Regions from separate parts of the Homo sapiens genome. Here region 1 is linked to region 2. The links come from fine-mapping of genetic effects on gene expression. A gene starts in region 2. The other region holds a variant in brackets. All regions are shown on one strand. Distances are between the middles of the regions. Region 1 has its middle 6.0 kb from the start of DOC2A. Region 2 holds the start of INO80E (INO80 complex subunit E).

Region 1 (2,906 bases), 21 kb after region 2:
CCTCAGGTGATCCGCCTGCCTCGGCCTCCCAAAGTGCTGAGATTACAGGCATGAGCCACTGTGCCTGGCCAAATTTTGGTCTTGTCTTTTTCTTTCTTTTCTTCTTTCCTTCCTTCCTTCCTTCCTTTCTTCCTTCCTTCTTTCCTTCCTTTTTCTTTTTTTTTTTTTTTTTGAGACAGGGTCTCACTGTGTTGCCTAGGCTGGAGTGCAGTGGCAAGATCATAGCTCACGACATCCTCGAACTCTTGGGCTCAGGCGATCCTCCCACTTTAGCCTCCCATGTAGCTGGGACTATAGGTATGCACCACCATGCCTGGCTAATCTGTTTTTGTTTGTTTGTTTGTTTTGTAGAGATGGGTCTTACTATGGTGCCCAGGCTGGTTTCAAACTCCTGGCCTCAAGCCATCCTCCTACCTTGGCCTCCCAAAGTGCTGGGATTACAGGTGTGAGCCAAAGACCATGCCCAGCACAATAATATATATATATATATATATATATATATATATATATTTTTTTTTTTTTTTTTTTTTTTAGACAGAGTCTCGCTCTGTTGCCCAGGCTGGAATGCAGTGGCACGATCTTGGCTCACTGCAACCTCCACCTCCCAGGTTCAAGCCTCAGCCTCCCAAGTAGCTGGGATTACAGGTGCACACCACCATGCCTGGCTAATTGTTGTATTTTTAGTGGAGATAGGGTTTCACCATGTTGGCCAGGCTGGTCTCGAACTCCTGACCTCAAGTGATCTGCCTGCCTTGGCCTCCCAAAGTGCTGGGATTACAGGCATGAGCCACTGCACCCGGCCAATATTTCTAAAGTAAAGGCAACCGTTAGGTTTCCTTCGTGGCTCTCCAGAATAAGAAAGGAAGCAGGACGAAGGGAGACACAGTGCAGTGTGAAAGCCGGTGAGTTTAGCAAGAGGGTGTCCATGACCTGGGCGCAGGGGGCCTGCAGTGAGGGGAGGGGGACACTCTGGTCAAGGAACCTGTCGAGTCCTCTCTCCTGTGCTCTCTTCCCACGGTGCTTGCTCAACCCCAGCCCTGCCTGCCTCCAGAAGAACTTGTTGAAGACAGGTAAGGATGAGGCTGGAGTTCAAGCCAATTTCAGAGGAAAATGATGGACAGTGCTGAGCCCTGCTTTGTCCAGAGACGGGAGGCTTTTGCACCAGTCACCCAGTCATTCAGTAAATATTGACTGAATATCGACTATAGATTGTGGGGATACAACCAGGCCCAAGGTCAATGAGCTGTGACTTCACAGCCTCATAGGGAAGACAGACAAATACACAGACAATCCCCATCCAGGGAAACTGACGTGGGGACAGGGGATGGTCAGAAGCCATGGGAACTCAGGGTCC[T/C]ATGAGGTAGGAGGGAACAAAGATTAACACCTCACTTCCCAGAAAAGGAGTTGTCTCAACTGAGACCTGAAAGATGAGGAGGAGTTACCCAGGTCAAGCTTGGGGGCAAGTGTATTCTAGGCAGAGGTGTGTGCCAAAGCTGGGAGGCAGTCCAGAGTACGGCATATTCAGAAAAGAAATCATTCTACCAGCCTGGTCAACATGACGAAACCCTGTCTAAAAAAAAAAATTAGCCAGGAGTGGTGGTGTGCACTTGTAGTCCCAGCTACTCGGGAGGCTGAGGCAGGATGATCGCTTGAGCCCAGGAGTTTGAGGCTGCAGTGAGCCAAGATCAAGCCACTGTACTCCAGCCTGAGTGACAGAGTGAGACCCTGTCTCAAAAAAAAAAAAAAAGAGAAAAAGAAAGAAAGAAATCATTCCACCAAAAAGACACCTGCACTTGTGTGTTTATTGCAGCACTGTTCACAATAGGAAAGACACAGAATCAATCTAGGTGCCCACCAACAGTGGACTGGATAAAGAAAATGTGATATGTATATGCCATGGAATACTATGCAGCCATAAAAAAGAATGAAATTATATCCCTTGCAGCAACATGGATGCAGCTGGAGGCCATTATCCTAACTGAATTAATGCGGAAACAGAAAATCAAATACCACATGTTCTCGTAAGTGGGAGCTAAACATTGGGTACCTATGGACATAAAGATGAGAATAACAGACACTGGGGACTCCAAAAAAGGGGAGGGAGGGAAAGAGTCGAAAAACTACCTATTGCCGGGTGCGGTGGCTCATGCCTGTAATCCCAGCACTTTGGGAGGCCAAGGTGGGCGGATTGCTTGAGGCCAGGAGTTTGAGACCAGCCTGGCCAACATGGCGAAACCCCATCTCTACTAAAAATACAAAAATAATTAAGTGGGCTTGGTGGCATGCGTCTGTAATCCCAGCTACTCAGGAGGCTGAGGCACAAGAATCACTTGAACCTGGGAGGTGGAGGTTGCAATGAGCTGAGATCGTGCCACTGCACTCCAGCCTGGGCAACAGAGTGGGACTCTGTCTCCGGAAAAAAAAAAAAAAAAGAAAGAAAAGAAAATTGAGGCTGGGCGCTGTAATCCCAGCACTTTGGGAGGCCAAGGCAGGAGGATCCCTTGAGCCCCGGAGTTCAAGACCAGCCTGGGCAACATAGTGAAATCCTATTTCTACCAAAAAAAAAAAAAAAAAAAAAAAAAACTTAGCTGGGCATGATGACTTGATGATGCAGTCCCAGCTACTTGGGAGGCTGAGGAGAGAGGATTGCTTGAGCCTGGGAGGTCGATGCTGCAGTGAGCTATGATTGCACCACTGCACTCCAGCCTGGGCAACAGAGTGAGATGCTGTCTCAAAAAAAAAAAAAAAGAAAGAAAGAAAATTGAACCAACAGATCTTTTTATTCTTATCTTTTACAGATGGGATTCTCTGTCACCCAGCTTGGAGTGTAGCAGCACGATCATGGCTCACTTCAACCTTGAACTCCTGGCCTCCAGTGATCCTCCCACCTCGGCTTCCCAAATTTC
Region 2 (2,847 bases):
CCATTCTTTGCTGGGGGTCCAAAGTAGTCTGGGCTGGAGGCTTCAGAGCCGGACTCTGGAATATGGAGAGGAGAGAGGGTTGAGACAGGCTCCTCCTGTCCCTTCTCCCTTCACTTCGGATAGGTTGCCTCGAGCCCTGCCCTGACAGTTGGAGGGGCAGCAGGAAACAGCTATCTGTACTTGCTGTTCCCGGTTCCTGACTCACTAGCCTTGCTCCCTCATCTAACGCCTGGGGACATAAGAGATGCGCAGTGAATGCTTCTTGAGTGAACCAACGATGCAGAAGGCCCCCACAGCAGGGAGGAAGCACTAACCCGACTCTGAATTGAAGCGGAACCTTTTTCTCTCCGGGTCGCTACAAGGGGTGGGAGGCCTCTTGCCCTTCTTGGTAAGGTCCAGTTTGTCTTCCCTGGAAGCGGCTTCATCCACCTGTGTGTGCGCCAAGAGGGCAAACTATGCACCAAGGCTGCGCTCACCGCGCCCCGTCAGGCCCCTCCTCCTCAGCAGCAAGCCCCGCCTCCGCCTCCCGCGGCCCAGGCTCCGGCCCGGCACACCTGCATCTTCAGCAGCTCCTCCTCCACCAGCCGCTTCAGTGCCTGCTTCTCCTCGGGCTCCAGGTGGCTGCGGCCCGAGTGAGCTAAGTACCTCCGCCGCACGATGGAATGCGTAAGCGTGCTGCAGGGACATGGTGTCAGGACGGAGTCCCGACCCACCCGCGCCCTTTCCAACCCCATCTCCAACCCCCTGGGCACCTGAGGTCCGGGCGGCCTCGGAAGAAGCTACGGGTGAACTCCTGCATCTCCTTCTCCCGCGCCATTTTGCTCAACCCGGGATTGACGGCTCCCGCCTTTTTTTCTTCTCGGCCTCCGTCAGCGCGTTTGACAGCGGCTCGCGCACGCGCAGTGCTGCGGCAACGTGGGGCGAGGGACCGTTGGCCCTTGGCCGCGGACCGCGTGGGCCGAGAACTTTGCCAGACGAGACTTGTTTTCTCTGGGCAGTTGGAGGGTCTCGCGGCTCCTACCCTTTTTTGGAACGGATCATTTTAAAAGTTCTCGTTAGAAACCAATTCGGCGCCGGCACCCTTTGGGTGAAACCTAATCAGCCCGCGACGCTGCCTTTCTCACTGGTCACGGGCAACAGCTAGGCTGCTGTTATTTCGCAAGGCAGAAGAGAAAAGGCATCCTCGCGAGCAGATGAGGAACCTCGGGGATAAATCCTTTTGTGGCTTCAAGTGTCTAAGTACATTAGAGTCAGGAACGGCGCTTTCCAGCGTCCGCCATTTTTGTGGCGTCACCGCGTCGCTGCTACGCCATCCCCAGCGCAGTGGCTGCCGCGCTCCTGTCCCAGTGTCCCCCGGGAGGTCGGCCCGTGCGGTGACGCCCCTGAGCGCGGGGTACGCCGGGAGTTGTAGTCCTGACGGCACAGCCTTGCAGCGTCTCCGGAAGTGGAGGCGGGAGCGGCACGGCAGCCACTGCTTGGGGTAGCGGGAGGGCAGACTCTGGGCGCCACTCCCGGGCCGGTCATGAACGGGCCGGCGGACGGCGAAGTGGACTACAAAAAAAAATACCGGAATCTGAAGCGGAAGCTCAAGTTCCTCATCTACGTGAGTGCTGCCGCGGGAAGGCTGTGGGGGATGAGGCCTGGCGCGGACAAGATCTCAGTTTACCCAGGTGTAAAGTGGGTGGGGCGAGCGGCCGCTGGTTCCGGGGCCCTTCACGGAGGACCGTTGGCCCAGCGCACCCCTTGCCCGTGATACAGGAGCACGAGTGCTTCCAGGAGGAGCTGAGGAAAGCGCAAAGGAAATTACTGAAGGTGTCCCGGGACAAGAGGTGAGGCACGTTGCAGGGGCGGAGGGCGATGTGCTTCCTAGGAAATCTACATTCGGACCCCATCCCCGAGTAGGGCCACAAGTGCATGGGCTCTTTCAAGTATCCGATGGGCCAGCTGGGAGGGACAGGTACCCAGGAGGACATTGCTGCGCTGGAAAATCACTGTCCGTGTCTCCTTCCCTCCCCTCAGTTTCCTCCTAGACCGACTTCTGCAGTACGAGAACGTGGATGAAGACTCTTCGGGTGAGCAAGGTCTTCAAAAATTGGTGGAGAGCATGGTTCCTGGTACTTAGCAAGCTTCCTGGGCCCCCGCCTTTTAGGCAGTGGTGGCTGATGCAGCCCCCAGTGGTCCTTAAGCCTAGTTGCTTGCCTTCCACCTCCACCGTTCTTTCATTCAGGCACTTACTGAGCACCTATTGTGTTTCAGGCACTGTGCTTGGCACAGGGGATACAGCAGAGGCAGAGATAGGCAAAGCCCTTGGCCTCTTGTAATTTATATTCTAGTTGGGAAGAATAAGTAAATGAAGACAATAGACTAGAATTTTAGGTCATAGGAAGGACTTGAAGGTAATGAAAACAGTTATGCGGTAATGATTATAGTAGAACAGGGGTTGATGAATTGTTTCTGCAAAGGGCCAGATGGTAAGTAAGCTTTTTGCAACATACAATCTTTGAAGCACCTACTGAACTCTGCCATTGTAGTAGCAGCCGTACCCCATAGGCAAATACATGAGTATGGCTATGTTTCTATAAAACTTTATAGGCACTGAAATTTGAATTTCATATTTTTCCATATGAAAAATTTTTCTTTAGTTTTTTTTTTTTCCAACCGTTTAAAAGCTTAAAAGCCATTCTTGGCCAGGTGCAGTGGCCCACGCCTGTAATCCCAACACTTTGGGAGGCCGAGGTGGGCGGATCACAAGGTCGGGAGTTCAAGACCAGCCTGACCAACATGGTGAAACCTCGTCTCTACTAAAGATACAAAAATTAGTCGGGTGTGGTGGCGTGCACCTGTAAT

The links. PIP is the estimated chance that this variant, and not a neighbour inherited with it, causes the effect.
Region 1: its variant is the best candidate, but not a certain one, in a credible set for the expression of INO80E in whole blood (TOPMed, PIP 0.76).

The regions. Positions count from the first base shown.
Region 1 is chr16:30,015,547-30,018,452 of GRCh38, forward strand. It overlaps a transcript of DOC2A not described here. Among named protein-coding and RNA genes, the nearest start is that of DOC2A, 6.0 kb to the left of the region's middle. The variant T/C (reference allele first, on the strand shown) is at 1,355.
Region 2 is chr16:29,994,789-29,997,635 of GRCh38, forward strand. It overlaps INO80E (INO80 complex subunit E), which reads left to right and starts at 1,453. Exons shown (of 7, transcript NM_173618.3): 1 at 1,453-1,603; 2 at 1,759-1,829; 3 at 2,020-2,072. The coding sequence starts at 1,523. HIRIP3 (HIRA interacting protein 3) reads right to left here and starts at 829. Exons shown (of 7, transcript NM_003609.5): 1 at 753-829; 2 at 555-675; 3 at 315-429; 4 at 1-55. The coding sequence starts at 817. RefSeq lists enhancers at 1,177-1,346, 1,407-1,536.